Regions from separate parts of the Homo sapiens genome. Here region 2 is linked to region 1. The links come from fine-mapping of genetic effects on gene expression. A gene starts in region 1. The other region holds a variant in brackets. All regions are shown on one strand. Distances are between the middles of the regions.

What was found. PIP is the estimated chance that this variant, and not a neighbour inherited with it, causes the effect.
Region 2: its variant is the best candidate, but not a certain one, in a credible set for the expression of DLD in breast (GTEx, PIP 0.58).

What each region holds. Positions count from the first base shown.
Region 1 is chr7:107,888,053-107,893,583 of GRCh38, forward strand. DLD (dihydrolipoamide dehydrogenase) reads left to right here and starts at 3,131. Exons shown (of 14, transcript NM_000108.5): 1 at 3,131-3,237; 2 at 5,148-5,226. The coding sequence starts at 3,199. RefSeq lists enhancers at 2,832-2,911, 2,869-3,551, 3,062-3,301 and a silencer at 3,362-3,471.
Region 2 is chr7:107,940,198-107,945,197 of GRCh38, forward strand. LAMB1 (laminin subunit beta 1) reads right to left here. Exons shown (of 34, transcript NM_002291.3): 25 at 1-161. Among named protein-coding and RNA genes, the nearest start is that of DLD, 52 kb to the left of the region's middle. The variant G/A (reference allele first, on the strand shown) is at 2,984.

The sequences.
Region 1 (5,531 bases):
GCGTGGGCTTGGTGGGCCCTGCACTCGCAGCGGCTGGCCGGCCCCACTTGCCCCGGGCAGTGAGGGGCTTAGCACCCAGGCCAGCAGCTGCAGAGGGTGCGCCAGGTCCCCCAGCAGTGCTGGCCCACTGGCGCCCAAGGGCTGAGGAGTGCGGGCACACAGCGGGACTGGCGGGCAGCTCCGCCTGCCGCCCCAGCGCAGGATCCACTGGGTGAAGCCAGCTGGGCTCCTGAGTCTAGTGGGGACTTGGAGAACCTTTGTGTCTAGCTAAGGGATTGTGAGTGCACCAATCAGCACTCTGTGTCTTGCTCAAGGCTTGTGAACACACCAATCAGCACCCTGTGTCTAGCTCAGGGTTTGTGGATGCACCAATTGGCACTCTGTATCTAGCTAATGTGGCGGGGACTTGGGGAATCTTTATGTCTAGCTAAGGGATTGTGAATACACCAATCGGCACTCTGTATCTAGCTCAAGGTTTGTAAACACACCAATCAGCACCCTGTGTGTAGCTCAGGGTTTGTGGATGCACCAATCGGCACTCTTTATCTAGCTAATCTGGTGGGGACTTGGAGAATCTTTATGTCTAGCTAAGGGATTGTGAATGCACCAATCGGCACTCTGTGTCTAGCTCAAGGTTTGTAAATGCACCAATTAGCACTCTGTGTCTAGCTAATCTGGTGGGGAATTGGAGAATCTTTACGTCTAGCTAAGGGATTGTGAATGCACCAATCGTCACTCTGTATCTAGCTCAAGGTTTGTAAATGCACCAATCAGCACTCTGTGTCTAGCTCAGAGTTTGAAAATACACCAATCGACACTCTGTATCTAGCTAATCTAGCGGGGACTTGGAGAACTTTTGTGTCTAGCTCAGCCATTGTAAACGCACCAATCAGCACCCTGTCAAAATGGACCAATCAGCTCTCTGTAAAACAGACCAATCAGCTCTCTGTAAAATGGACCAATCAGCAGAATGTGGGTGGGGCCAGATAATAAAAGCAGGCTGCCTGAGCCAGCAGTGGCAACCCGCTTGGGTCCCGTTCCACAGCGTGGAAGCTTTGTTCTTTCACTCTTTGCAATAAATCTTGCTGCTGCTCACTCTTTGGGTCCACACTGCCTTTATGAGCTGTAACACAGCGAAGGTTTGCAGCTTCACTCCTGAAGCCAGTGAGACCACAAACCCACCAGGAGGAATGAACAACTCCAGACGCGCTGCCTTAAGAGCTGTAACGCTCACCGCAAAGGTCTGCAGCTTCACTCCTGATCTAGCGAGACCACGAACCCACCAGAAGGAAGAAAGTCCGAACACATCCAAACGTCAGAAGGAACAAACTCCGGACACGCCGCCTTTAAGAACTGTAACACTCACTGCGAGGGTCCGCAGCTTCATTCTTGAAGTCAGTGAGACCAAGAACCCACCAATTCTGGACACAATATGAATATGGAAAGTTGCTCATGAGATAGTTTTAAGTGAAAAAAATCAAGTTAGCAAAATAAGTGTGGTCCAATTTCTGGTTATATTCCTTAGCTGGAATATAAACACTGCTAGTGTGGGCTGTCCATTGTTGACATCGCTCCCTCCACCTCCCGTGTGTTCGCATTAATTTATATGCGTTGTGGCTTTTGTTCTAGCTGAGAGGAGAAGAGGTATAGTTGGTACAAGAGATGAGGAGGAATGTGGAGAAATATGGTGAGTGCAGTAAGGAATCTATTTCCTGCCTCACTTCTCATACTGGGTTGAGCCCCTAGGCTTTGTGAATGACAGCTGGAAAGGATGGAAGTGTTTCATTTTTTAAAAATAAAAATATGATATTGTAATTTTGGACAAAGGAGTAGGGAACAAAGCCCAAGAAAGTTCAGGAAAGAATTGTGAGATTTTGTGCATATGGAGCAGTAACTCCTAGACCAGATGTCAAAGACTGCCATGAAGCTGGAGAGGAGACAATTCTCCCCATCTGTGTGGTGGAGGCTGCTCAATGTCCCCCAATTTCGCTTCATCTCATCTTGCTTATTAATACAATTTCAGTTAGGCACTCAGCTGACAGGACTATGTTTCACAGATCCCCTTGCAGCTAGGTGTGGCTTTGTAATCAGATGGAATGAGGGGATATGATTGTAGAAACTGGAGCAGCCATCTTGAATGAAAGATGCAAGGCAAGCTCTGATGATGGCAGAGTCACGAGATAAAAGGAGCCTGGGACCCTGTCACAGGACAGAGCTGCCAGCAATACCGTCTCTATAACAAACACTAAATTTAATTATTCATATCTAAATCTGAACATAGGCAGTAATTTCTAACCAGTGTTTAGCCCAGCACAAGGCCTGGGTGGTAGACTTCCAATAAATGTAGAATTAAGTTTATTCACACTATATAGACTTATTGCAAGGCAAGAATGAGACCTTAGACTTTCGTGCTCAATCTTGAAGACAATGTTTTTCAACCCTTTTCAACAGATTCTCTCTCAAAACCTAAAATCTCATCCACCATCCCACTCTCTTTTTACCAGGGAGATGTGTTTCTCAACTAAAGAAATAGAAGAAAGTGTGTTCTCTACGTATTGTCAGTTAGCTAATTAGAGCAGAATGCTGGTGATGCCAAAATCTGTAGCCCCATCCCTTATATGGCATTTGAGAGGAGCGAGTATAAAGCAGTAGATAATACCAAAGGTTTTGGCCTCAGGGCCGCAGTTATCTCTCCTTTGTGAGACCTTGGGGGCACTGTTTAACCTCTCTGGGTCTCATCCAAGAAATGGAAATACTAATAATACTCCATATGGTTGTTGCAAGGATGAAATGAGATGTCTGTAGGAAGTGCCGAGGAATGCCTAGCACAACCAAGAGCTTGTTGAACTTGTCACGCTTTACTGTCGATAATGTGCATTAAGCAAACGCTAGTTTTATTTGTTTATTTCATCTTCTAAGTATAAGAATACATTGTAGCTCGACATTTTGGCACCAGCCCCTAAAGCATTCCCACCACCACCCCCGCTGCGACAAAGCCCTGCGCTCCTTACGACAGCGTACGACGCCGAGCCTGACAGGAACGCCTCGTGCGGTAGAACCGCGCGGGCCAATCGCGCTGCTCCCGGGTGATGACGTAGGCTGCGCCTGTGCATGCGCAGGGAGGGGAGACCTTGGCGGAGCGGCGGAGGCGCCCAGCGGAGGTGAAAGTATTGGCGGAAAGGAAAATACAGCGGAAAAATGCAGAGCTGGAGTCGTGTGTACTGCTCCTTGGCCAAGGTGAGGGCCGAGTAGGTGAGGTCGTGTTGAGCCAGAGGCACGGAAGGTCCCGCTCAGTGGGTCCGGTACGCGGCTTAACCGTGTTGGGCTGGCGGAGGCGGGCGCCTGGGCCGCACCACCCCTGGCCCCGCCTCTGCACTGGCTCAGCCCGGCCCTGGGCTCCGAGGTGGCCGCTCATCCTGCAGCAGGCGAGGGACGGGGCTGGGCCCAGGCTGTGGCGAGTCCTTTCGGGTTGTGTGACGGCCGGCGGTCACACATGCCACACCCCCAAGCCTGGGCCGAGGGCCATCCCGGTCACACATAGGCCTCTACCTTGGAGGAAGTGTAAGCCACCCATGTCCCGTATAGTCTGGCTTTTTATACCATTTGCCTTTTTCTCATCCTAATTCTGATCCCTGAGTGGCCTAAGTTTATGCAGTGGGCAGGTAACCCTGGGGTCACTTCTTGAATGGTTTAGATCCAGTCAGCTCCAACAGATAGCCCTCGGAATTCCCCTAAGGTCTTGTCAGTGTTGGCAGCTTTCAACTGGTGTTCATTGCCATCTCTCACGACTTCCTGGAGGCTTAAATCTTTAATTGCAGCAGGTTATCAGAACAACTCTCCTTTTTAATCTGCTTACCAGATACAGCCAAATTGTGTGTATGTGGCACCGTGGCTGGGTACTATGTTAGTGGAGACCTTAAAAATAATATAGCGATCAAACCCTTTTGTTTCAGAGATGAGGAACCTGAGTTCTCAAAAGTTAATGTAACATTCTGCAAGTCATGCTTTTAGGGAGCGGCGGAGGTGGGACTGAAACTCAGGATTGTCAATCTGCTGCTTTTTGGGTTTGCTGTCCTGACCTCAAATGTTAAGAGTTGCCTTGGAATAGGAAACATCAGTGTAGGTTTTGTCACTGCCGCCCATTTTCCTGCTGTGAGCAGGGGTTATTTGCTTGCTTGCTTTCTGCCTCATTGCCCTTAGGAAATGGTAGCCGTCCACATATAGAGATTAGGGAGATTATGATGCAATTTGTCAAACTGTAGTAGCACCAGAACGTAAGTACATTACTTGGTGCATTTTCCTAAGTTACCTTGTCTAATTTGCTATTCCTAGTTGATGTCTCAGGAACATCTTCATAGATTGTTCTAAGTAAATACGGACTGTATATACACGCTAGCTTAGAGTTAGGAAACAAAAATTACAGGTAAAAAGATTATCATGTATAGATTATTCAAGTATTTAAGTTAGAACTTTCAGAGCTTTATTTATTTATTTATTTATTTATTTATTTTGAGACGGAGTCTCACTCTGACATCCAGGCTAGAGTGCAATGGCACTATCTCAGCTGACTGCAACTTCCGCCTCCCGGGTTCAAGTGATTCTCCTGCCTTGGCCTCCCGAGTAGCTGGGATTACAGGCACCCACCACTACACCCGGCTAATTTTCTTGTATTTTTAGTAGAGTCGGGGCTTCACTATGTTGGCCAGGCTGGTCTCGAACTCCTGACCTCAGGTGATCCGCCCACCTCAGCCTCCCAAAGTGTTGGCATTACAGGCGTGAGCCACCACGGCCGGCTCAGAGCTTTATGACATTAAAATGATCCCTGGCACTAATAATTAGCCATGTTTTCTGAAAATTGAATAAAAATACCATTGAATACGTTTTTAAAATTAAGTTAAATATGAGATGATTTGTTGACTATTGATAATAAAAAGATGGGTGTGGCAAGCTGAGGCTGAAAAATTTAAATGATTAGTTATTGTCAAAGAGGGGATATTGATCTGTAGCTTCTGTGTGGCAATGGAAGAAGATACACTAATAATCCTCGCTTGATACGTTTGCCCAAAATTGTTCTGTTATCATCAACCTTCAGTAGTTCTATGTTTTGAATTCATATCTTACATAATAGGGACATTTTCTTTTTCTAGAGAGGCCATTTCAATCGAATATCTCATGGCCTACAGGGACTTTCTGCAGTGCCTCTGAGAACTTACGCAGATCAGCCGAGTAAGTACTTAAGTAAAACATTTTTTTCATCACATTAGCTGACAGTTCCTTTCTATTTCAATGTAAAAGCAAGTGAATATTGGAATAACTTATGTTAAGTGTCTTATAGTTCATTTGTTCATGTATTTATTCGTTTGAATGTATATTGAGCTAGTGTGTTCCAGGCGGTGAACAAGGTAAAAAAACCCTGCTCTTATGAAACTTGTAATTTGGTGATAAAAGACAAACAATATATAAGTAATGGATAAATATTTTGGGAAGTAACTGAAAATTAAAGCAGGTAATAGGGAGGAAGAGAGATAATT
Region 2 (5,000 bases), 52 kb after region 1:
AGCAAAGCACTGGTGGCAGGGTGTGCAGTCAGGGAAGACCCCCGAGTACCCTCGCGTGCACTTGTCACAGCGTGGACCCTCAACACCCTCAACGCAGACACACTGGCCCGTGGACTGGTCACACTGTGGCGTCTCAATGCCCCTGGGGTCACAGTCACAGGCTAGAAGGGAATAAGCAATGCTAGCTGATCTACTTAATCATGAACCTCAGTGACAAGATGTGGCATTTAGAATACTCACTTCACTGTGAAAATGGGAAGGTGTCAACCATCGACAACAATTGACCAATGGCTCAGGTAGAGACTGTAGCAGCTTCCTCTAGCACATGCGTGACTTCAGTGGTTGCTAACCCCTTCTTAGCAGTAATAATACTTTAAACAGAAATGTTTTATATGAATGATCCCATTTAACTCTCACAATAACCCTATGGGATACGTGTTATAATAATCACTATTTCACAGATGTGGGAACTCAGAGATCAGAGAGATTATGTAACATGCCCCAAGTCTCACTGCAAGGAAAAGGCCACGCCAGAATTCTGATTCAGTTCTTTGCAACTCCGGAGTCTATACTCTTCACCTCCGTCCTGCCTTTGCCTCCCCCTTACTTAGGATTTCCCCACAGACCATGTCTGTACAAACAATCCAGGTTACATCCTGATAATGTGCCACCTGGCATCGGATACATCACAAATGAGAAGCTCTTTACGTACCTGACTCTATCTCACAACAAAACATACTTGATGAAATGCAATAAACATGATCAAAACAAAACAAAACCCAAAGGAATTCTAAGTATCCAGTTTAAAGGCTTTCAACTAAGTATAATCTAACTTGGGGGTGTCTGCCATTGTGATGACCACTGCCAGTACTACAAGCAGGGATCTTGGGAGCCATTCAGTCTCAGCGTCTCACAGGCCCAATAGGGTTGGCACCTCATGCAAAGCCAAATGGCACAGGAAAATCACGTGCCGTACAGGACAAAATGTGTTCTTGGCCAGTAGCTGTGGCTGAGATTACTTAGCACAGTGGCTGTGCCCTTGAACCCTGGCTTAGATTCCCAAATTTCAGGTGACCAAATCATTTTTATATCAACATCTGACATTTGAAAGTATTTATACAGGGTTTGAATTACGAAAGGCCTTATGCTAACATCTTATCGCTGGGCTTCCACCCATTCTGAGGAAAGACAGGAATAAATAAAGAATATACTATCTTATTTCCCTAACTGGATTGTGGACTCCAAGGGCAGGGGCACATCTTAAACCATTTTTCGTTTTTCAGCATCGGACTCAGGGTTAACTTGCAATCAGAATCCAAACGTCTTTGCCAAATGAAGCCCTAACCTCATTTTAGTCTAGGCATGCAAGGACACTTACATACCTTCATAAAAGAAAATAATCCTCCTGAAGTGCAATGTCAACTGTGGCAAAGCACAACAGATTCATGCTTTCTCGGATTTTTTTTTTTTTTTGAGACGGAGGTTTTGCTCTTGTTGCTCAGGCTGGAGTACAATGGCGCGATCTCGGCTCACTGCAACCTCTGCCTCCTGGCTGGGTTCAAGCAATTCCCCTGCCTCAGCCTCCCGAGTAGCTGGGATTACAGGCATGCGCCACCACACCCGGCTTTTTTTTTTTTTTTTTTTTTTTTTTTTTTTTTTTTAAGAGACGGTGTTTCTCCATGTTGGTCAGGCTGGTCTGGAACTCCCGACCTCAGGTGATCTGCCTGCCTTGGCCTCCCAAAGTGCTGAGATTACAGGTGTGAGCCACTCTTGGGTCAATAGCTGTGATTTGCCTCTGAAAAACTTTTTTTTTTTTTGGAAGAGTCTCACTCTGTCTCCCAGGCTGGAGTGCAGTGGCATGATCTCGGCTCACTGCAACCTCCACTTCCCGGGTTCAAGCTATTCTGCCTCTGCCTCCTAAATAGCTGGGACTACAGGCATGCACCACCATGCCCAGCTAATTTTTGTATTTTTAGTAGAGACGGGGTTTCACCATGTTGGCCAGCATGGTCTCCATCTCTTCACCTTGTGATCCGCCCACCTTGGCCTCCCGAAGTGCTGGGATTACAGGCGTGAGCCACCGCGCCCGGCCTTCCTCTGAAAAACTTTCTAATGGAACATCTCCCAGAACCAGTTATACTGAGGGTCCTGAGATCTGCTATAACATCACCATCCTTTCAACCCAGAGGTGTGTGTTTGTGGCCCATTCATTTGGCCCTCACCACATCCTGCCTTGTATTGCTAGTTTATCTTTTTATTGTCTTTGTTCTCCCCCTACATTCCAAGCTCTCGAGTGGCAGGTTTGAGGAGTACAGCATTATGGTTAAGAGCATGAACTGCGGACTGAGGTGGTAAATCCTGCCTTCTCCACACATGTTATGTGACCCTGGGTAATCAGGAAACTGAGTCACGTCTTCCACATCTGTAAGAAGAGGTAATGATTATAAATACAGGACTGCTTTCAAGATAAAATAATTACAAAGTGCTTAGAAGAGCATCTGGTCTATAGCAAGCATTCAATAAATAAATTGTTTTTATTATCACTTTTCGTGTCCCTACAAGTGTCTGGTAGTCTTCTGCTAAGAGTGATGCTTGATCGTATTTCCATTGGATAAAGGGGAAAAACGTGTTCCGGTTATATGTTTATTTATATGTATTTGCCAATAACGTCATGATTATTCAAAAATTTGAAGTTTAGAATATTAATTCCTCAACCTTTAGGATTTTAAAACATGTAATTTCCTTAGCGCCTGGGGTTTTCAAAACCAAGACCTTAGGATTTCAAAAGTAAAACTTGGGTGTATGCTTTTCAAAAAACAGATCCTTTCCAGGTACTTAAAGTATGTTTCATTTTTCTTGTTTGGGGAATATTCTCGTAATGAATCAGGAAGCTGTTTAGGCAAACCATGGATAACTTTAATGGTGATCCGTAGACCATACGTTCTATGATGTGTTCCTTGAAAAAACTATCCCATGATGAAAA[G/A]TTCTGTATCCTTATCTTGAAGATTAAAAACAAGTGTCAGCATATTACAGACTCAGAAGAGTTCTGCAGGAAAAACTGTTTTATATTGTTTTTATCCAGTTGTATGTATGCCAAAGTCATTTGACCATGGGATCTTTTTTTAGTGGAAGTCAATGCCAGTGACACCCAAGAGAAATAATGAGAAAGGCTTGGGAAAACCACTACATTAATCGATTTCTGAGATTAGGAAGAACTTAGATAACTTACAAATAACTTAAATAACTTAGTACCTTAAGAGTTTATGTTGTTTAGATTTTAGGAATACATTTCCATTATCATTTGGTAAAATTTAGTCATCTTCCAGAAAGCTAAAAGTTACCCCCGAGTCACCTGGGTCCTCACCTCTCAAACTTGGGTAGGTATCAGAATCACCTGGAAGGTTCATAAAAAACAGATTGCTTCTCTACTCTCCTCCCATCCCCAGATTCTGATTCAGTAGGTCTGGGTGGGGCCCAGAACTATTTTTATTTCTATCACGTTCCCAGGAGATACTGATGTTCACAGTCACGCGACCCCGTTTTGTGGAGCACTGACTGTTACTTTCCCAGCTGTTTCTGCCCGCCTTCTGTATATTAGAGAAAAAAAGAGAGCATGTGCGTGTGTGTGTATCTGTGTGTCTGTGTGAGAGATGGAGAAAGAGATACCCTTCAAAAGGTGGAGCTGGAGCAGAATCACGACTTCGGAAGTTCAGCAATGTAGGCTGATGCACAAATCTCAGGACTTACGTAACAGAGGAAGAAGTGATGCCATTTGTAATAAAACTTACCTTGTCTACCAGCCAGTGGTCAGGGTGAGGCAGCCCTCTGGGGCCTACTCACCCATCTCCCTTAGACTTGACACAACTGAGGCAGAGTTGCATATGCTTATAGTTTGCTTAGACAATTATTTCTTTCCCATAGATGATGCAAAGGTATACCTTTGTTCAGTCCTAAACATTAGGTTTTTGCTGGATTCATGCTTGGGGCAAGGGATGCATGCATACGTTGATTTATTTTTAATTTCTGTGATCATTTTTCATTTATTTCGTTGCCAAAGACATGTCTTGCTCCCATTCTGTCATAGGCATCTTTAAGGGGAAAACAGCCCAACCCTGAAAGACTTAAAAGGCAGATAAGGCTTCCCTCTTTATCTGGCCGAGGGAAATTAGCCTGGGTAAGAGTTCCAATGAGCTAGCAGAGCTTCGGCTCTCTCCAGAAGTCAACAACCAGTTCAGCCAAACTGACCAACATTCCTTTCTCCCACCTGAAAAGTAAACCATCAAATCTCACAGATGACCGGATTGCAGTGTCATTATTGAAAAAGTTGGGCCTGACTCTCCGGGAGGGCACCAAATAACTAGTCTCAAATGTACCAGGTTTTGATTTCAAGCTGAAGCCCCTGGTCATGTGCTTCCTTCCCTGGCTATTGAATTTCCAGAATTGCTTCTCTTGGAGTCACCTAAGAGGCAGGCACCAGAAGGCCCACATTTTACAACCTTGTAAAAAGACCCCCTCCACTTCAAGAATATTTTCAGTGAAACTCCCACACTCACGTGGCTGAAGCAGAAAGGTCAGTTCACACTTGACAAGTTAGTAAAACTTCATGGACACTAATGTATGGAGGAGATTCTCCCATCATCTCACACACCCACCAGGATCTGAAAAACTGTGAACTGACTATTCAGGCTGCAGCTGATGAGGTCCAGTGGGCTCCTTCTCTCTTAAGAGAAAGGAATCAGAATCCAAATGACCTAGATAAAGCAGTCTTATTTTAAGAAATGGGATTACTTGGCAGAGAATCAGAAACTTTCTCTTGGAAAGGAGAGCATACATAGCAAAAGTTGTTGCCTAATCTTTAAGATGAACAAATCATGAAGATGAAGAATAGTATTTTTTAAATGAGATACTCATTTTAACAAGCCATAATAATTTGACTTTCATCTGTAAACACACTCTCTGTTCTGTGGCCAGTAGGCTTCCTCTATTTTTACTAAGTTTTC